Linked DNA regions of Homo sapiens. The protein of the gene in region 2 purifies or fractionates together with the protein of the main gene of each other region. This does not show direct contact. Each region holds a gene or a part of one and is shown on either strand. Other genes may lie near its edges.

Evidence for each region.
Region 1: the proteins of ALDH1L2 (region 2) and WDR11 purify together in Homo sapiens (affinity purification with mass spectrometry; 3 studies listed by BioGRID and IntAct, with this or other methods). This does not show direct contact.

Annotation. Positions count from the first base shown.
Region 1 is NC_000010.11:120,851,801-120,862,706, forward strand, and holds part of WDR11 (WD repeat-containing protein 11), read left to right. Parts: exon of another isoform or gene 1-201; intron 202-723; coding exon 724-835; intron 836-3,951; exon of another isoform or gene 3,952-4,330; intron 4,331-6,842; coding exon 6,843-6,996; intron 6,997-8,308; coding exon 8,309-8,482; intron 8,483-10,906. UniProt on the Homo sapiens protein: Involved in the Hedgehog (Hh) signaling pathway, is essential for normal ciliogenesis.
Region 2 is NC_000012.12:105,077,553-105,089,065, forward strand, and holds the start of ALDH1L2 (mitochondrial 10-formyltetrahydrofolate dehydrogenase precursor), read right to left. Parts: upstream 6,907-11,513; 5' UTR 6,885-6,906; coding exon 6,837-6,884; intron 1-6,836. UniProt on the Homo sapiens protein: Mitochondrial 10-formyltetrahydrofolate dehydrogenase that catalyzes the NADP(+)-dependent conversion of 10-formyltetrahydrofolate to tetrahydrofolate and carbon dioxide.

The DNA.
Region 1 (10,906 bases), on a different chromosome or scaffold from region 2:
CCAGCTTCCAGGCTTCTCTCTCTCCACCATTAATTCCCTGTGCACTTTCTCTTTCCCATCCTGTCTTTTCTTTTTCGTTGTCTTGTATTCCTGTTGTCTTTCAACAATGTGCCAGACCCTGTGCTAGGCGCCTGTTCTTTCACCTGTCCTTTTCACCTCTTTTCGGGCTCCTCCTGTGTAGAACATTCCTGCCTTCAACAGGTCGTCTTTATTACTCTCTCCTTTCACTATAAATTACTACTGCAGCTCTGAAAACTACTCATTAGACAAATGTAAAGCAAAATTCTGTGGCTGTGGGATGTTGTTAGGAGGACTGAAACGTCTTGTGCAGTGTTTGTCGTTTTATTTAGTTGGAAGGACTAGGATTAGTCGCAGTATCCCCAGGCACATTGTGGATACTAAGGATTAGAAATCGGATAAGCGAAAGACGTATGCCTACAAGAACAGTCAGAGGGCACAAGTTCCTTTTTATGTCCTCGGGTCTCTATTTTCATATCTTTTAGAACTTTTTTTATCCGAATGAAAAGTGAATTTCAACAAGCATTTTAAGCTTAGCCAGATCTTTTATTTAAGTGGGATAATGATAAATACTGGCCTTTGGGTTTAAATGATTTTATTAATGGTGGTACATATGAATTAGACTTATCATTTATTTAGGCTTGGCAAGAAAGAAGTCGTCCTGCTTTGTTCTGTACTTAAACTTTAACATTACTGTTTTGCTAGGGGCTGGCAAGGTTTAATTGCTTATGGATGTCATTCACTTGTGGTAGTGATTGATTCCATTACTGCCCAAACTCTTCAAGTTTTAGAAAAGCATAAAGCTGATGTTGTAAAGGTAAGTAAAATCCCACTTTGACGCTAACATGTTGTCTAGTCTAAAGTTTAATACTGTGTATCACTAAGCTCTCATTAAGTCTTACGTGTAAGTGTTGAATAGCTTTTAAATATAACAACCTATTTGGGGTAGCCTAGAATTTTCATATATATGACTTAATGTCAATACAGGGTGAGTTATTAAATGCTAGTTGTTAGATCATTTTAAGGCAGATGAAAGTTCTACCATTTACAAGACCACTCAGTCATTCCTTAGTTTTGAGCACTTACCATATGCTATGGATATGGAGATGAAAGCCCTCAGATAATTCTCCATCTTATAAGGAAGACTCACAGCGTGATAGTGTGATAAGTGAGACTTGCGTAACACGCTGTGAGAAAACAGAGGAGCTGCATATTGCCTGGTTGTGAGGAGAGTCACAGAAGTCTACAGTTTCAAGACTAGTAGACAGTAGTTAGCCAAGTAAAAAATTGACAAGGAGCATTGCAGGGAAAAGCAAGAATATACACAGAAGTAAGTAGCGTGCCATAAAGATGGCTAAAGATGGGACACTTGTAGGAGTGATGAAATAAGAGGCAGCCAGAGAGATTCAGCTGTCTGTCCTGAAGTTTTGTAAGATTACGAAGGAGTTTGGATTTTTTTTTTTTTTAGACAGAATCTCACTCTGTCGCCCAGGCTGGAGTGCAGTGGCATGATCTCGGCTCACTGTAAGCTCCACATCCTGGGTTCACGCCATTCTCCTGCCTCAGCCTCCTGAGTAGCTGGGACTACAGGCACCCACCACCATGCCCAGCTAATTTTTTGTATTTTTAGTAGAGACCGGGTTTCACCATGTTAGCCAGGATGGTCTCGAGCTCCTGACCTCGTGATCCACCCGCCTTGGCCTCCCAAAGTGCTGGGATTACAGGTGTGAGTCACCGCGCCCAGCAGGAATTTGGATTTTTGAGTAGGAGATTGATGTGACCATATTCGCGTCTTAGAAAAACTCTGGCAGCAGTGGAGGATCTGCTGAAGAAATGCAAGACTGGAGGCAGTAAGATCATTTAGGAGATTTCTGCAGTAATTTTGGTGGGAAATTCTAAGGGCCTAAAATAAAGCTGGGGCATGGAGAAGTCATGTTTAAGAGCAGCAAAGAGGTAAACCTGATAGCCTTTATAGTGATCAGTATAAAGGAGAGTAAGAGAATAGAGTGACTCCAAGGTTTCTTTTGGTGTAATTGAATGACAGTGTTTCCAGTTATCAGAGGTAAGCATCTGTGAAGTCAGTGAATTTTTAAGTTTTCAACATGCAAAATCTGAGATGCCTGTAATATATTGCATTATAGTGATCCGGGCTTTAGGAGATAGGTCAGGATTAGAGATAGAGATTTGGAGTCTTTTTCTTTTTTAAATAATAGCTTTATTGAGATACTCATACCATAAAATGTACTGACTTAAAATGCACAATTCTGTGGCTTTTAGTATATCCACAGTTAATGCAGCCACAATTACAATGAACTTTTTTACCTCAAAAAGAAACCCTATATCCACTAGCAGTCATATTCCATTTCCCCCATTTCCCTCATCCTTTGGCAACCACTGACCTACTTTCTGTGTCTGTAGACTGGCCCATTCTGGGGATTTTATATAAATTGAATCATATAATTTGTGGTCTTTTGTGCATGACTTCTTTCACTTAGGATAATGTTTTCATGGTTCATCTGCGTTGTAGCATATATCAATACTCTGTTACTGATGAATAATATTCCACTGTAAGGATGTATCACATTTATTTTATTGATGGACATTTGGATATTTTGTACTTTTTGCCTGTTACGAATAATGCTGCTTTGCACATTCATGTGCAAGTTTTGTGTGAACCTGTGTTTTCATTTCCCTTGAGTATGTTTCTAGGGGTGGAATTACTGACTCATATGGTAACTCTGTTTAACTTTTTGAGGAACTGCTGGACTGTTTTCCAAATTAACATTCTCATTAGTAGTGTATGAGGAGTCTAATTTGTCCAAATCCTCACCAACGCTTGCTGTTCTCTGTTCTTTTGATTATAACCATCCTAATGGGTATGAATTGATTCTCATTGTGGCTTTGGTTTGCATTTCCCTGATGGCTAAAGGTGTGGAGTATCTTTTCATGTGCTTATTGGCCATTTGTATATCTTCTTTGGAGAAATGTCTATGCAGGTCCTTTGCCCATTTTAAAATTGTATTATTTATCTTTTTATAATTGAGTCGTAAGATTTCTTTGTATACAGTAGTCCTCCCTTATCCAGAAGGGAAATGTTCCAAGACCCCAGTGGAAGCCTGAAACCCTGGATAGTACTGAACCCTATATATATTGTGCTTTTTCTCATACATACTTACTTATGATAAAGTTTATAAACCAAACCCTGTATATACTGTTTTGTCTCATACATACTTACCTATGATCAAGTTTATAAATTAGGCATAATAAGAGATTAACAACAATAACTAATAATAATAAAGGAGAACAATTATAACAATACATCAGCATTACTACTCTTGCACTTTGGGGGCATTATAAAGTAAAATAAGGGTTACTTGAACATAGCACTGAGATATCACAACAGTTGATCTGATAATCAGTATGGCTACTGAGGGCAGGTGGTGTATACAGCATGGATGTTCTGGACAAAGGGATGATTTATGATTAAGGCAGGATGGAACAGGACAGTGGGAGATTTCATCATGCTATTCAGAAAAGCGCATAATTTATGAATTGTTTATTTTTAGACTTTTTTGTGTCATATGTTTGGATTGATACATGATTTGCAAATATTTTCTCTCAATTTGTGGGTTGTCTTTTTACTTTCTTGGTGGTGTCTTTTGAAGAACAAAACTTTTTCATTTTGATGTAGTCCAATTTATTATTTTGTATTGTTGTTGCTTGTACTTTTTGTGCCATATCCAAGAAACCATTGCTTTCTCCAATATCAAGAAGATATATACCTTTGTTTTTTTCTTAGAATTTTAGAGCTTTAGCTTTTAATCCATTTTGAGTTAATTTTTATATATGATGTGAAATAGGGAAAAATACTATTAATTTTTGTTTATTGATCATATCCTGTAATCTAGCTAACTTCACTTAGTAGATCTATTTAATAGTAATTTTGGGTAAATTTTTTTTAAGTAGACAGTCATGTCACTGCAAGTGACTGCAGTTTAATGTTTTCATTGATAATCTGTGTGTCTTCTATTTTTCTTGCCATGTTGCATTGGCTAGGACCTCTACTACAATGAATGGGAGAGTAGTGAGAGGATACTCTTGTCCTGTTCCTGAGCTTAGGGGGAAAGTATTCAGTCTTTCATCAAGTCTGATGTAAGGTATAGGGTGTTTTGGGAAAAATATATTTACCTTCTCTTTCCCTCTCTGTTTCCTTTCCCCTACACTGCCCCTTGGCATTTCTGGAGCTTTTATTTCTTTATGTAGGTCCAAGTTTCAGTCTGGTATTATATTCCCATCGACTGAAGAATTTACTGTAAGTTCTTAAAGTGCCTGTCTAATATTGGTTGATTCTCTTAGCTTTTATTTCTCTGAGAAAGTATTTCACCTTTGTTTTCGAAAGATAATTTTCAAAGGATATAGAATTCTGGGTTTATAATTTTTTTTTCTAGTAGTACTTTACAAATATCATTCCATTGGCCAGGCATGGTGGCTCACACCTGTAATCCCAACACTCTGGGAGGCCGAGGTGGATGGATCACCTGGGGTCAGGAGTTTGAGACTAGCCTGGCCAACAAGGCAAAACCTCATCTCTACTAAAAATACAAAAATTAGCCAGGCGTGGTGGTACACACCTGTAATCCCAGCTACTTGGGAGGCTGAGGCAGGAGAACAGCTTAAACCTGGGAGGTGGAGGTTGCAGTGAGCTGAGATAGTGCCACTGCACTCCAGCCTCGGCAACAGAATAAGACTCTGTCTCCAAAAAAAAAAAAAAAAAAAAATCCCTCCACTATCTTCAAGCTTACATAGTTTCTGATGAAAAATTTTTGTTTTTGTTTCTCTGCATTATATCTTTTTTCCTCCGATTATCTTCAAGATTTCCTTAACCTTGGTTTTCAATAGTTTGATTATTAAAATATATATATATATGGCTTGGAGTTTACCTAAATGGAATTCAACATATACATATACAAATATATACACATATACAAACATATATATACACATAGAGACAGTCAATTCTTGTTATTTGTGGTAGCTATATTCTGTAAAGTTGTTGTATACACTGAATTAGTGAATACTGAAACTTTGTTTGCTCCTAGGGGTTAGGTTCTTGTGAGGCTCTGGTCACAACATTTTCATCAACTGATCAATAGATAACCTTGCTTTATATGTGTTTCCGTTTAAAGACATATTAATATGTCAGTTGATCTATTAACATTGAACTCATAGCCAACAACACATGCCTGAGCAAAGATTATCACATATATATATATGTATGTATTTTTTGCAAGACACATCACAACTTCTCATACTTAGAAACGGTAGGCAGTATGCTTGGGGACCTATTTAAACAGTGAAGTCACCAGCAAAAGGAACAAAAATGTGAAAAATGTGGTACTAAATAAATCATGAGATGAACACTTGTTTTGCCATTGGAAAAGCTAAAGCAAGAATTCTTGTTTGACTTCAGCTGGGAACACACATGTATGTTCGGTGACATTTTTTTCACCATTCTGCACTTGTCCACAAAAGCACTGCAAGTATTGATTTTGAGGTTGCAAATTATAGTGAGTAGGTAAATTGACAAATACAGAATCTATAAATAACTAGAATGGACTGTGTACACATATATACACTATACATATTCTATTCATACACATTCTATACCTATGAACTTAAACATATACACATACAAATATGCATACACACATACATATGCATATATACACATACCTCATTTAAAAATTTTTGCCTGAGCAAAAGATCTATTACAGGAAAACCTTAAGGCCTGTTCACGCTCATTTTCAGAAAACGTTGTTTCCATCTTTTTCATGAATACTACTGCAATTGGTTGGCTTACTTTCCTACCTTAGCATTATATATGAGTGTATTTATATCTGTACACATATATAGGTATATACATTTATATGTATTTATAGATTTGTGGTATTTAAATCTACTTATTAAACAGACCTTGGACACTGTACTAAGTCTGAGAATAGAAATGCAAACAAAGACCACATGGTGTGCCCTATGGAACTTACAGTTGATGGACTCATGAATAGGCAAAAAGAATGTAAATAAAATAAGTACAAATTGTGTAGTAGTAAATGCTTTGAAGAAAATAAGCAGGATACTGAGAAGAGAGGGGTGGTAGTGACCAGGGAAGGCCTGACTCCTAGTGAGGACTATGAAATTTTTCCCTTATTCTGTCAGTATTCATTGTTCAAGAATTTAATCAGATTTGCCCTGGAGTTCATGTGTTTTTTATTTTAAAAATTCTATTGTTAATCATGTTGCTATAGGCATGAAGCATTTTTTTTTTTTTAGAGAAAAACTTAATGTTTTGTGAAAGAGAGAGACAGCTAGAGTTTTTTGTTTGACTTTGCCTTCTCCTGACTTTCCCTCTGCAAGGTTTTTGTGTTTCTAAGTTGTCTTCTTTTAGTTAGGAGACTAGAATACAGAAAAACATTCTGCTAAATATGATTTTAGGTATTTTGTCATAAATTAGATCTTAGGAAAACTGATTTTCAAGGCATCCTGGGGTTTTAACCTAAATTTCCCAAAATATTAAGGCTGTGAATCATTTTTCATCACAGGATCTTTGTGATGTGTCAAAGAAAACAATTTTGTAACTGCAGTTAAAGATATCTACCAAAGTAACACAAATGCTGCCTTCAAAATGAAAACCAGTTTTCTGTTTATTCTTGCTAAATGTTTATGTAATATAAATGTAGTATGGGTTCTGGTTGATGTTTTGTGAAAATTATGTTCTGTTTCATCCAGCGCAAGTATTTACTTGATCTGATTTCTTCTTGATACAGGTTAAATGGGCCAGGGAAAACTATCACCATAACATTGGCTCACCATATTGCTTACGGTTAGCTTCTGCTGATGTCAATGGGAAGATCATCGTCTGGGATGTAGCAGCAGGAGTAGCTCAGTGTGAGATCCAAGAGCATGCCAAGCCTATCCAGGGTGAGGAAAGTCTGCTCAGCTAAGTGTGTATATTGATACACTTACTCTTGGAGTGGTTTTTTGGTTTTGGGGGTTTTCCCCCATTCATTTAATTTTATCAATTCCAAGTTAGCTCTTGATTGTGTTTTGCCTATTCTGCTGATCTAAATCTGGCTTTCTGTCCTTACTAATACACTTCTAGGCATATTTCTTCAAATCTCAACTGATTTGTGCTTTGGTAAAACTCATTAATTGCAATATCAGCCTCATTCAAGCATGATAAGAAAAAGTAAGTGGTACAATCTTGTAATCTAAGCTACAATATAAGGAAAATTGGCCACTGCTGTTAGGAACTAGCCATCAGTGCTTACTCTACATTAAGTAATTTGTTCATTATCAGAGATGAACAAAATTTTATTCTCATTTTCATATAGATTGCTTGTTTGTTCGTTTCATGTTACTGACCTAAAACCAGTACGGTATTCTTTTTTTTTTTCTTTTTTTTTTTTTGAGATGGAGTGTCGCTCTGTTGCCCAGGCTGGAGTACAGTGGCGCTATCTCGGCTCACTGCAAACTCTGCCTCCTGGGTTCACGCCATTCTCCTGCCTCAGCCTCCCGAGTAGCTGGGACCACAGGCACACACCACCACACCCAGCTAATTTTTTGTATTTTTAGTAGAGACGGGGTTTTACCATGTTAGCCAGGATGGTCTCGATCTCCTGACTTCGTGATCCACCTGCCTCGTCCTCCCAAAGTGCTGGGATTACAGGCGTGAACCACTGCGCCCTGCCCAGTACAGTATTCTTTAGACTTAAGTCCTCCAGTGGCTCTCTTGACTGAATGAATTTTTTAAATGACTATTTAAAAAATATTTATTAAATACTTACTGTGTACTAGGTACTGAACTAGATCTTTGCATATTCTGTTTATTTTTTGAAAAACCATGAAGAACTGTAAAGTTCCATTAAGTAATTCCACAGAAACATTAGGAAAGTCTGACATCTTGGTTGTGGCTAAGAGAGTTTCATATTGATTTTATAGTTTTAAGTAATGATTAGGGCAAATTGCCTTTTATTTTCTTTGAAGTAATATTTCAGATTACTTCAAAATTTTTACCTTGAGAGTTTAACCAGACAACTTATTTTTATATAGAATTAGTTTTTTCTCTGGAATATTGATACACACACACACACACACACACACGTCACATTTGGGGCTGGTGGTTAAGTTTTTAAAGATTATATTTTAAAAACTAAATATCAAGGACAAGTTAGCCAAGGACTTTGGAGAGTGTGGTTTCTGAATTTTGCCTTTCTTTATCGGGTCTTTCCAGATGTTCAGTGGTTGTGGAATCAAGATGCTTCCCGCGATTTACTGCTTGCTATCCACCCGCCAAATTACATTGTGCTCTGGAATGCCGACACTGGCACCAAACTATGGAAGAAGAGCTATGCAGATAACATTCTTTCTTTTTCTTTTGACCCTTTTGATCCCTCACATTTAACTTGTGAGTAACAGTTGCTTGTGGAAAATGAGTTAAGTGAGATATTTATAATATAGTAATGCTATGTGCATGAGATATACACACACATTATACATCTATAATGTTAAAATGACTGAGCGAAGTGGAGAAGCATGTCTAGTCCATATATCTGCAGCTCCTAATACACATACTCAATCATAAGTTCATATCATTGCAAATATGATAAAAAATTAAATCAGCAAGCTACACCTTCACTGTGTTGAATTTGTGAATAGTATTAGACTAGCCAGGGACAGAGAGTTACTTTGACACTCCAGACTTAATTAGTTCTTCTAAGAACATTTAAATAACTTGAATCAAGGGTTTCATTCAGTCTGTGGCCAAGTTAAGTTCTTGCTTTTTAATAAATTGTCCTAATTCACGCCATTCATTTTGAGTGCCATAAACAGATGCATGTAAAGAAGAAATAAGCCTAAGCAAGTTTTTTCTTGCAGAGATAGTTTTTGCTAATATGCTTTTAATGTTTTCCTGAGCTAATGATCTAAAAATGAGATGTGCTTTAGGTATTTTTGTGGCTAAATTGTTTAGAAACTATTTAATCATCCAACAGATATTTCTTGAGCTATTGCTACTCTTCTGGGAACCAAGATGTCTCAGAACCCAAAAGGCAGGAGCCTTCACAGAGTTTGCATTCTAGTGAGAAGAAGTCATATCATAAACTGTGACCACAATGAATTAATAAATTCTAGTGTAGTAAGAGGTGACAGGTGATATAAAGGCAGGATAAAGGGGATGCAGAAGAATGGGGGATGAGGGCATGCAAGTTGTATGAGATAAAGTGGTCAAAGTAGGCTTCACTTTGATAATGATCAGAAATGTGAAGGAGGTAAGGGAATTAGCTATGGTAAGGAATGTTTTTCCTGGATTTGAATGACTCAAAATTGTTTTACCCATCAACTTTTATTGAGGGGTGTGTGTGTGTCTGCACGTGTTAAAGGAGGAAGAGAAAGGCAGACAAAATTGAAATTATAATAACATGGGAAATGTGGCTGTGTAAATACACTACAGGGTGCTTAGGCTTTTATGTATGTAAATGTTTGTATATGGACGTGTGCATACATACACTCACTTGGTCACCAGTTTACTTACTCACATAGGTGCAGTGCTGGGGAAACACCTAGGAGGGCTGGCCCAGTTGGCAGAGTCAGGGAAGGAGGGCATCACAAAAGAAGGAAGCAAAGGGGACCTTGAAGGATGAGTTCTGGAACCTGAAAAGGCAACAAGGCTTTCAGCTAACTTGATTGCATCAGCTCTTTACATCTCTGTAATTTGGTTGATGAAAGCATTGTGTGTTCCAGAGTGTCAGTTGACCTAACATCTTTGATTTACTCATATTGAATGTGCTAGGGTTGTCATAACTCTTGAATGCATCCTTTTTCCCTGTGTTTAGAGCAGCCTTGCTAAGGGCTGGGACCCAGGGTAGTAAGGTTTTTCTGCTCATGTCTTCCAGTATTAGGCCCATTGTTGAGGGAGATTATTTTTTCAGTCATAAAAAGGCATAATTTGTATTGCTAAATATGGTGCTCCCTCCTTGACTATTTTTGTTTCATGTACACTTAGTAAGTCACTGTGGGCCCACTACTGTTTTCTAAATATTAAGGGAAAAGAATATTCCTTAATCATCTTAAGGTTCGATCTGATGCTTGAGAAGAAAAAGGGAATATATTTAGACTGAGTAGCTCAGGATAAAAATTTGGTATCATCAAATAAAATATATGAACTTAGCTAATTGTGATATGCAGAGCCTCTTAAGTATGGTTTTTTGTTTTTTTAAGTTATGGGATATGTTAAAGTTTTTTTGTTTGTTTGTTTTTTGTTTTTGTTTTTGTTTTTTTTTTTTGAGATGGAATCTTGCTCTGTCACCCGGGTTGGAGTGCAGTGGCACTATCTCGGCTCACTGCAACCTCCACCTCCCAGTTCAAGCGATTCTCCTGCCTCACTCTCCTGAGTTGCTGGGATTACAGGTGTGTGCCACCACGCCTGGCTAATTTTTGTATTTTTGGTAGAGACGGGGTTTCACCATGTTGATCAGGCTGGTCTCGAACTCCTGACTTCATGATCTGCCTGCCTCTGCCTCCCAAAGTGCTGGGATAATAAGGAAAGATTTTTAATGAAAGTCCGTGCCCTGAATTTATTTAGAAGAACAAACACTTGTTCTTTCTGCCAATAACCTTATGTTATCTTTTTAATATAAGACATAATATAGAATGCCAAGCTTGGAGGCCTCTGATGAATTGTAATGGACCACCTGTTTCTCTTCAACTTAGAGAACATTCCCATTATGTTATGAATGCATAACATTGCCAGTTATATATTATTAAAATTATCACTATATTGCTCTCAAAATTGTATTGGAATAAAACTGTATGCTAAACTTCATTAAACTTT
Region 2 (11,513 bases):
ACAGGCGTGAGCCACCACGCCCGACCTTGTTTCTTTAGAGAGAACATTCTTCACTAGAGGAGACTTTTGCAGGGAGCAGAGCCTTTGCTTTCCAAATTGTCAAATAATGCATTCCCAGGCTGTCCACCCTCTGGTGGAATTCTTCAGGAAGCAAGTTAATACAGACCCTGACTATGCTCCAAGAATTAAAAAAAAAAAAAAAAAAAGGTACACATAGCTTTCCAAAGAAAACTTCAAGGCACAGTGCGAAGAGTCTGCCCTGATCTGAAGCCCTTTGGCCAGATGCTAATAGAACCATCTGGGCAGGGTGTAAAGTAAGGCCAAAGCTATCCAAGTAAGAATTGGCAGTTTCACACAGAGGACCTTCACACAAAAGAATAAAACAAAGTACATTTTCCTGAGACCCTGAGGTGCCTAACACTTCATGGAGCATCCGGCACAGAGTGCCCCAAACTGTGCCTGACTCTGTGCAAGACTCATCCAACAAGCATGTTTTCAGGCTTTGCCACACTCTGGGCGTAGTGCATGGTAGAGGTGGCACATTACTGGCCTGGCAGGGGTGTTTTATTTGGCCCACAAAGCATTTTTAAGAGGACTCTGTTAAGATTTTTAGGAGGTTGCACCTCAGAAGGCACAACTTCTAACTTGTCTTTAAAACTCAGGAGGTTTGGCTGGGTGCCGATCACCTGAGGTCAGGAGTTCAAGACCAGCCTGGCCAACATGGTGAAATCCCATCTTTATGAAAAGTACAAAAAAATTAGCTGGGCATGGTGGCGCGTGCCTGTATTCCCAGCTACTCAGGAGGCTGAGGCAGGAGGATCGCTTGAACCCGGGAGGCAGAAGTTGCTGTGAGCTGAGATCGCGCCATTGCACTCCAGCCTGGGCGACAGAGCAAGACTCTGTCTCAAAAAACAAAAATCAAAAAAACTCAGGAGGTTTGTCAACCCTGGTCTGTGGCGCCGTATAGCAACAGTCAGCTAGCGCTGAGCAGTGGTGGCCCCTTTACCCTAGACATGGTCTTGCCCTCTATGCAGCTCAAATCTCTCATTTGCTTTACCTGTTTGGCCTCTGTGGGAATTTCTCTTTGCGACCCTTACACTAAAGATAAAAAGAAGCAGTCCCTGTACTCGGGAATCCACCAACTAGTAGGGAGGGCACACAAGCTAAGACATAGTAACAGTGCTAGAATAAGAGAGCACAGTTTGGTTAAGAGACGAGAAGCCTTCTCCAGAAGGGAGTTACTTAGCTGAATCTTAGAGAATCCATCTTGGGAGTTGGCAGAGAAAAGGGAGAGGCTTGGGAAGTTCCAGGCAGAGGGTGCGGTATTTACAAAGAAACAAATGCATGTGCACAGCGTGTCCAATACTGGGAGTTAAGGAGTGGTGACAAGCGACACCGTAGCAAGAGACATTATGGAGCGCTTTGTGTCAAATAATTGGGACCTTATTGTGAAGACAATGAGATTCACTGAGCCGCTTTAAGCAGGAGAGTTAATTGAAACCAGGAGAGTCTAGTTTCTATGCTAATAGACTGCTTAGGTAACTCTGGAGGCATGAACTAGCTCCGGGTAGACACACCTCTTGTGTTGAGAATGGAGCAGAGCGTGAAAATCAAAGCTGACCTAGCAATCCACCTGTAGCATAGTCACAGGATATAGTCTGGAATAGTGTGAAAGCTCTTGCAACCAATTGTAACAAACTCTCATACTAACAGAAGCAACAAGTACACTTTACATAGAGGTAGATCTGCAAGATTCAGGATACCATCCTAAATGGCAAGCTTGCGCAACTTGATGTTCCTATTGCCTCATTATATAAAGAAGATATCAGTGAGGGCTTTCTTGGATGTCTGGCCAACTTTTGTTTTTTCATCATAAAAAGGATAAAATATTTTAAAAGGAGGGATGTCAGTACAGGGGCCTATGAGCAGGTGATGCCAGAGGGGGATGCCCAGGACTCAGAGGCTGGAGAGAGCTCCTGGGCCGAGGCTGGTGACCACAGAACACTTCAAAGACTTTGAGTAAAGGGAGAGACAGTCCAAAGGGCTCGAGTCCAGAAACGGACTCCAGTACTAGAGAGGCAGGATTTCCATGCACAGAATTTACTATAATATTTTAATTGTATAAAATTTTTAAAATTAATTTTTAATTATACATATTACATATACACACAAGCTCCTTACGAAAAGAAAAGATCACAGATAAGACTACAGTCCCTTTTGACCATCACTCCCAATCTGCATCCCCTTCTCACTCCCCAGAGGAAACTACTATTGTTTGGTGTGAATTCTACAGACCTTTCCTAGGCATTTAAAAACATGGAAATATATACAAAAAGTATTGTTTTGTATTTCCAAAAATAATTCAAATGAAATAATATTATGCGTAATGTTCCACAACTTTCCTTGTTCGTACATATAATTCATTCTTTGAAATTCTTGCACAGTATTCCTTAGTGTAGCTATATCTCAGTTTATTTGTTCATGTCCCTATTGAGAAACATTTTGGCTTTCAATATGTCATTATTACAAATACCATGGCAATGAATATCATGGTACATGCTTCCTGTGCCCATGTAGAAGTATTTTTCTCAGATACCTACAAGTGAAACTGCAGGATCATTTTTAAACATAAATTTAATTTAAATATGTAGCATCAAATTGACCTCTAGAGTAGTGGATGAACTGTTTTCTCACCCCTGCTAAACACACAATATCGTCAAATTTATGATTTTTGCCACCCTGATGAGTGAAAAATGGTATCTTGTTCTAAGTTGCATTTGCCTGATTACTAGTTTGGTTGAGTGTATTTTCATATTTTATTGCTCATTTATATTTCATTTTTGGTATATCATTTTAGTTAGTGTATTATGTATTATTATTCTTTTCCTAAAAACATAGATTTAATAGTCTGTCCCACTAATCTATGAACTCCTTGAAAATGGGACTATTTCTTTCTTGTTTATTGTTTTATCTTTTGGGTTATGAGAGTCTGAAAAAGTTAGTTCACTTCTGGGTCTCAGTTTTCTTATCAGCAAAATGGTCATAATAATCTAGGTTGAGAATCCCTTATCCAAAATGCTTGGAACCAGAAGTGTTTCAGATTTCGGATATTTTCAGACTTTGGAATGTTTGCATTATACTTACCATTGGAGCATCCCAAATCTGAAAATCTGAAATCCAAAATGCTGTAATGATCATTACCTTTGAGTGTCATGTCAGTGCTCAAAAATGTTCAGATTTTAAAGCATTTCAGATTTCAAATGTTCAGATTTGGGATGCTTAACCTAGTACCTACTTCATTGAGATATCATGAGGATTAAAGGAGTACACAGTCGCCCTCTGTATTTGTGGGTTCTGTATCCGTGGATTCAACCAACCATGAATCGAAAACATTTGGAAAAAATTGCATCTGTACTAGACATGTATAATTTTTCTTGTCATTATTCCATAAACAATACAGTGGGACAATTATTTACATAGCATCTACTTTGTATTCATTATTATAAGTTATCTACGGATGATTTAAAGTATACAGGAGAATATGCACAGGTTATATACAAATATTACCCGTTTTATATAAGGGACTTGAACATCTTCAGATTTTGATATCCACGGGAGGTCCTGAAACCAATCCCCTATGAATACAAGGGACAACAAGGGACAATTGTATATGTAAAGCATTTATTAATGCATCTATTAATATTATATCCTCAGGATTTAGAGTCCTCAGTGTATAACAGACAATTAAATACAGTTTAAAGCTGAATTTGGAGATCCTATGAACAGATAAGACACCAGAGCAGAGGTCGGGCAATGATGAAACAAGAACCTGGTTCCTAGAACTGAGAAATAAAGCAGGTACTTGGTTCCAAAGAGCAAGGAAGGGTCCCACCTCTTTGGACTGGATCATAAGGTAACCTCAAGTTACCTGGAGCCAGGCTATAAACCCAGAGCTACCAGACAGACCTGACCCAGACACTGGCAGAGAAAGCTAAACAAAGGAATGTCAATGAATAGAGGGCTAAATAACTCCTACCACAGGGAGAAGAAGCAGTGAGCCAGGCAGGATATCAGAGGTGGGCAATAATATCTAATTGACAAAGGGTTTTAAAGCAAACCATTGTTTTAGTTAAAAAGATCCAGCCATCACTAAGCTGAAATCATTAAGTATTTCTAAGTCCTTTTATTTAAGACAGAGGATGGAGAAATGAATTCTATCAAGAAGTGTTATAAACTAATTTTCCCCTTGGATTTTGCTAGGTTCTGAAAGCTTTATTTTTATTCATCCTTCATTCTGCTTTAATACTAAACTTAAAAGCATTGTTTGATTTTTAAATTTTAAAGATAAAGGGATAATTAGGCCGGGCACAGTGGCTCATGCCTGTAATCCCAACACTTTAGGAGGCCGAGGCAGGAGGATCACTTGAGGCCAGGAGTTCAAGACCAGCCTGGCCAACATGGCAAAACCTCGTCTCTACTAAAAATACAAAAATTAGCTGGGCATGGTGGTGCATGTCTGTAATCCCAGCTACTCAAAAGGCTGAGGCAGGAGAATTGCTTGAACCCCGGAGGCAGAGGTAGCAGTGAGTCAAGATTGTGCCACTGCGTTCCAGCCTGAGTGACAAAGTGAGACTCTGTCTCAAAACAATAAAAATTAAAAGATAATTTGCATGGGTAAAATGCACCCTCTTCAGTGTACTGTGCTGTGAGTTTTAACAAACACACAGTCACGTAACCACTACCATAATCAAGATGTAGAACAGTTCCATTACCGCCCAAATTCCTTTATGCCTATTTATAATCAATCCTTCCTCCTATCTCCAGCTCCAGACATCACTGATCTTTTTTCTGTCCCTATAGTTTTACTCTTCCAAAATGTCAGATAAATGAAATCATAAAATATGTAGCATTATGAGTCTGATTCTTACACTTAGCATACATATTTGAGTTCCATCCATGTTGTATGCATCAGTAGTTCATTCCTTTTTCCCCCAACTGAGTAGAATTCCATTGTATGGATGGATATACCACAGCTTGTTTATCCTGTCACCAGCTGAGGACAATTTATTTCCAGTTTTTGGCAATTATGAATAAAACCTCTAGAAACATCAATAAACAGGTTTCTATGCGGGCAAATAAGGTTTCATTTCTTTTGAGTAAATACCTAGGAGTGTGATTCCGGGGTCATATGATAGGTTTATGTTTAACTACATATAAAACTGCCAAACAGTTTTCCAAAGTGGCTGTACCATTTTATATTTCCACCAGCCATGTATCTGTTTGATTTTGAATAATTCTTATAAAACACAGTCCAGAACATTTTCTACAGGATAAAACATCCCACATTTTTCATTCACCACTCAGTAGCTTCCTTTCGACCACTGAGGAAACTGTCTTCTTCCCAGCCATGAGTATCACTGCTTTTCCATATGCACCCCTGCGTACAGTTAGACCCTGATCACGCCAGTTCTTCCCCACATCCATAGTTTTGTTTATGCCATTTGCCACCTGAGATGTTTACCTTTTATTACTGAAATCTTATGCAAACCGCACTATCAAAATCTTTTCATTCTGCAAGACTTCCTTCTGGTCACCAAAAAAGACAAGTCAGTGAAAGGTGTTGACAGAGGAGGCCAACAAAACAGGCTCAGGCATTGGGCACAGCCCGTTGCTTTCTGTGCTATCCATCTGGGATCCCATGTGCCACGTGGTGGGGGAAGCTAATGAGGGGTCCAGGAGAGCAGGCCAAAGTCCTAGCAGAGCAGGTCTTCCCCACCCCCACCCCTCGTTTTATAAAAGGTGACTATACCTCAAAGTAACTAGAACTGGTTGCAAAGAGTAAAACGAATTCTTATTATTTGGGGTTGTCTGGGATACAGAAAGCTTTTCCTTTGATGCAAGTTTGGGCCAGTTTTTGGTGCTACTCAAGACTTCTCTCTGCCTCCAAGTTTTTTACATCTGAATATATACATATGTACATATGGCTTTGGCATGGCCGAGAAAAAGAATCGATAAGCAAATTCTTTTATGTACTTCCTATAAAAGATACGATACATAAGACAGTTTTTATTTTTTTTTTTTCTCTCTCTCTCTTCCCTAAACAGTCCCGAGGCCCCCTGGGTGCTGAAGGCAGCACCGCAGTGCAACGTGTCCTCTCTCGGTTCCATTTCTGGAGGAGCTGATGCAATTCCAAGGCGCGGGGCTGGGCCAGAGCTCGGTTCTTGTGCTACAGTAGAATAGTGTTCCAGCGTGGCTGCCTCTGCAGCGCCTGGCAATTCTAGAAATTTTGCCATCTGCAGCTCAGCTCAGGAATACTGAGCTTGCAGCCATCAGCTTTGAGTGCCATTATCTGAACCGGCCCTGCGTGCCAGTCTCGAGCGCTTACACCTCCCAGGCCGCCAACGAGGACCCTATTGACTTGATACTCCCCTCCTCCAGGAGACAGTCTCGGTTCCATATGGCTCCAGCTCTTGACCAGGGATCTCATGATTGAAGTGAAAAAGGAAAGGAAGCAGACTCTGTCCTCCTTACCAAGTGACTGTTCCCACCTTGCCATCCCAGCCAGACTTGACACGTCCAAAAACTGCATCCTCAGCCCCCTCCCGGCAGAAGACAATGGCCTGCGTGCCAGTTCCCATCCGGGACCCTCCCCAAGCCCTCCTCTGAGGTCTCTCTGTTTTTGTTTGTTTGTTTGTTTGTTTTAAACGCTGTCTTGGTGTTTAGCAAAGTCTAAGCATCGCTGCTCATCCCCAGCCCCACCGCCCCGGCCCTCCCGCCCCGGAGTCTGGAAACCAGGACAGGGTGACAGCCGGGACGCTCGCCCGGGCCGGACTCACCCGGCCAGTGGAGAAGCGCCGGAGCGCCTGGCTGCCCCGCCGCAGCATGCTGGAGAGGAGCGCTAGCACTGGCGACGCGGCAGCGCGGGAGGCAGGCGGGCGGCGCAGCCTGGGCGCGGCCTGGGCGCGGCCTGCAGTCTGGATGCCCCGGACTGCCTGGCTCGCGGCTCGCCGCTCTCGGCCTCTGCTAGTCCGCACCCCTCCCAAAGCCCACAGCCCGCGGCCCGCCCCACCCTACCAGCTGCAAGGCCCCGCCCCCTAGCTGTCAAGACCCCGCCCCCAGCTGGAAGGCCCCGCCCCGCCAGCTGGCTGCGTTCGGACAGCCAACCTGGTGCGACCCGGCGGAGCGCGTGGGCTTCCTGGAGCCTGTGGGCCCTGACCCTGGTGCCAAGAGCGCACCCAGTCCCAGGGACCGCGCCTCTCCGCTGCCTGGACTTTCCGCCAATTCCAGCCAAGGTCCAGGTGCTTTCTAACTGTGGGACCCTCTACCAGTTACTCAGCCCCGCAGCAGTGTATACGGATCTACCTTATTAGTGGTCAATCTGACATCCCAAGTGCTGTCCATAGCACAGCCCGTAAAAGGCACGCCTGTAGACAGATAGGTAGTGGGGGCGCCTTCGCTGTGGAGGGATCCTGATGCCTACCTCGTAGGACGGTAGGCCGGGCGCGGTGGCTCCCGCCTGTAATCCCAGCACTTTGGGAGGCCGAGGAGGGAAGATGGCCTGAGCTCAGGAGTTCGAGACCAGCCTGGCCACCATGGTGAAACCCCGTCTCTACTAAAAATAAAAAATAATAAAATAATAAAATAATTAGCCGGGCGTGATGTCGCATGCCTGCAGTCCCAGCTACTCGGGAGGCTGAAGCACGAGGATCACTTGAGCCGGGGAGGCGGAGGTTGCAGTGGAGCTGAGATCATGCCACTGCACTTCAGCCTGGACAACAGAGCGAGACTCTGTCTTAAAAATAAATAAATAAATTGGTGCAAAAGTAATTGTGGTTTTTGCCACTGAAAATAATGGCAAACCCGCAATTACTTTTGCATCAACCTAATAGATACGTGCCCTTCTCCCTCACCTCTCTGGAAAAAACGCTCAGACCTGCTTTAGCTGGACGTTTATCTCAAGCCAGACTTCTTAGCCCAGCATTCAGGGCCGTCTGCAATTTGCCATTTTCTCTTATTTCTCACTGCTCTTTTGCATATGTAATTCTGCTTGACTGCAGTTCTTGCCTATTCCTTCTTGGACAATGTTTCCCAGAAAAGCTTGTCATCTGTCACTTGTAATTATCTTGGCACGACCGTTTCTTTTCTGAAAGGTACCGCTTACATGCTGCCTCCTGGAGGCGCTTTTTTCTGATTCTTTTCTCTCTTAGTCTCCTTATTCCCCATAAATAATTGTTCACTCCTCTTAACAGGAAATAATCTTTGTCTATGCATCTGTTATGGCTGTCTCAATCTGCTACTGGTATTTGTATACCTATTAACGTCTCTGTTGGAAGCTCCTTGCAAGCTAAGTCCATGTCTGATTAATCAGGATTTACAGTATCTAGCACTAACCAGAGCTTTAAAAAAATAATAATAAAATAAAAAATAACTTGTTAAAAAAAAACTTGTTGAAACGGATGAATGTGTTTAAGAGAGTAAGGAGACAAAAAAGAACCATCATTAAAACTTGGAGAATTGCGGTTGGGCGCGGTGGCTCACGCCTGTAATCCCAGCACTTTGGGAGGCCGAGGTGGGCGGATCACGAGGTCAGGAGATCGAGACCATCCTAGCTAACACGGTGAAACCCTGTCTCTACTAAAAATACAAAAAATTAGCCGGGCGTGTGGCGGGCGCCTGTAGTCCCAGCTACTTGGGAGGCTGAGGCAGGAGAATGGCGTCAACCCAGGAGGCAGAGCTTTCAGTGAGCCGAGATCGCGCCCCTGCACTCCAGCCTGGGCGACAGAGGGAGACTCTGTTTCAAAAAAAAAAAAACTTGGAGAATTGCAACAAACATCCAAGGTTTTGCTTTGAGCCCTACATCTTGCCAATTCAACCCACTTTCCTGACTGCATTTTGTGACTTCTTGCTTTTTTAAACTTCCAAATATTGATATTCCCTTTATTTATTCTGATCTGTGTATACTAGAAGGGTGCATAAGGAGGGGTTTTTTTTTTTTTTTTTTTTTTTTCCTGAATGAGGTTCCATAGTTATATATTACTATTCCCAAGTTTAGGAAATGTAGAATTTATGTTCACTCAAATATAATGAAATATTCATTGTGTTTACTTTTTCCCTGGAAGAATCAAAAGTATAGTTTCCTTGATAACTGGAAATTAGATCAGATGCAATTAGAGTTTGACAAAGAGACCAACCCCTGCCAATCTATTTCTATACCCAGCAAAAATACTCCTTAAAAATAGAGATAAGACAAAGCCATTTTTAGAAACAAAAACTTGAGAGAATTTGTCATCGGCAGACAGACAATAAAGGAAATATGAAAGAGTATCCTTCCAGCAGGAAAAAAAAATTTACCCACATGGAAACCTAGAAATGCAAGAAGCCCAACAAAAAAGGCAAAGACGTGAGCAAATTTAAAGTGAACATTGGACTGGACGTGGTGGCTCACGCTTGTATTCCCAGCACTTTGGGAAGATGAGGTGGGCAGAGTTCGAGACCAGCCTGGGCAACATGGTGAAACACTGTTTCTACAAAAAAATACAAAAATTATACAAAAATTAGCCAGGCATGGTCACGTGCCTCTAGTCCCAGCTTCTCGGAAGGCTGAGTAAGGAGGATCGCTTGAGCTGGCAGATTGAGGTTTCAGTGAGCTGTGGTTGTGCCACTGCACTCCAGCTGGGTGACAGGGTGAGACCCTGTCTCAAGAAAAAAAAAAGTGAACATTGACCACATGAACAATAATAAATTATTATAATTAATATAATAAAGTATTATGTTTATATATGTATACATGAAAATACACAAATATCCAAACAACAATAGAAAATTGTTGGATAAGTTTGTAGGAAAGAAAATAATCCCAGATGGAAACTCACAGATGAAAGAATGAATAGTAATGTAAAGGATTAATATGAGGGCAAATTTAAGTTAATATTAATTGTATAGAACAATAATAATAATGTTTTATGGAGTTCAAATATATATATGCATGTGCATAGACTATTTAATTCACTTTGTGCCATTTTTGTAAATACAATCATTTGAATAACTTTTTGTAAGTGTCTGGATTAATTTCACGCTTTAGAAAGTACATAGATGATGTGCCAAGTTGAAACCCAAGAATTCCCACACAAAACTCTATGAAAGTTAGAGTTCTATGTAAAGCTTGCATAGTAGGAGTGGCTAGGGTCTTGGGTTTACAGAATACTAAATTGGAATCTTTTTTATTTTTTATTTTTTGGAATTGGTGTCCCTGGAATGCAGTGGTGGGATCACAGCTCACTGCAGCCTTGACCTTCCCTGGCTCAGGTGGTCCTTCTACATCAGCCTCCTGGGTAGCTGGAATTCCAGGCACACACCACCATGCTCGGCTAATTTTTTTTGTATTTTTTTGTAGAGAAGGGGTTTTGCCATGTTGCCCAGCCTGGTCTCGAATTTCTGGCCTCAAGTGATCTGCCCACCTCCACCTCCCAAAGTGCTAGTATTACAGGCGTGAGCCACTGCACTTGGCCCTAAATTGGAATCTACTCATTCTGCCATAGACAAATGTTTTGTTTAGTGACTAATATCTGTGACATTAGGGGCCTTGTGCAAATATAATACGTTGATCAGGGATCTGTTTTGTCCTAGACACAACGTTCACTCAGAATTTTATGAAATTGCAAGTCATATAATTTATAAACTTCTAAAAATGTGTGTAGAACATTTTTACTTCCACAGTCAACTTCAAGGATTTTAGAACAAAATTCTATGGGTTTCCATGCCCTCTTCTTGTTTGGTTGCTTTTTGACTGAAATTAACATGTAGCCATATTGACTATTTGGAAACATTGCTGTTTCTCTCTATATTTTTAAATTTTGCTCTGCTGAATACTCTGTTTTACCATATATAAGAGTGATGTGAGCTAGGCTAGTGACTCACGACTGTAATCCCAGTGACTTGGGAAGCTCAGGCAGGAGGATCGCTTGAGGCCAAGAGTTCAAGACCAGCCTGGGCAATGTAAGGAGACCCCCATCGCTAAAACAACAACAACAACAACAACAACAATTAGCCGGGCATGGTGGCATGCACCTGTAGTCCGAGCTACTTGGGAGGCTGAAGTAGGAAGATCACTTGGGCCCAAGAGTTTGAGGGCACAGTGAGTTATGATTGCACCACTGCACTCCAGCCGAGTGACAGAGCAGAGACCCTGACTTTAAAAAAAAAAAAAAAAAAAGAGATGTTTTCTTTATAAATTTCTCTCTCTCTCTCTTTGAGACAGGGTCTTGCTCTGTCATCCAGACTGGCATACAGTGGCACAAACAAGGCTCACTGTGGCCTCAATCTCATGGGCTCAAGTGATCCTTCTGCCTCAACCTCCTGAGTAGCTGGGACCACAGGTATGCACCATCACACGTAATTTTTTTTAAAAAATTTGAGGCTGGGTGCGGTGGCTCACACCTGTAATCCCAGCACTTTGGAAGGCCGAGGTAAGAGGAACACCTGAGGTCACGAGTTTGAGACCAGCCTGACCAACA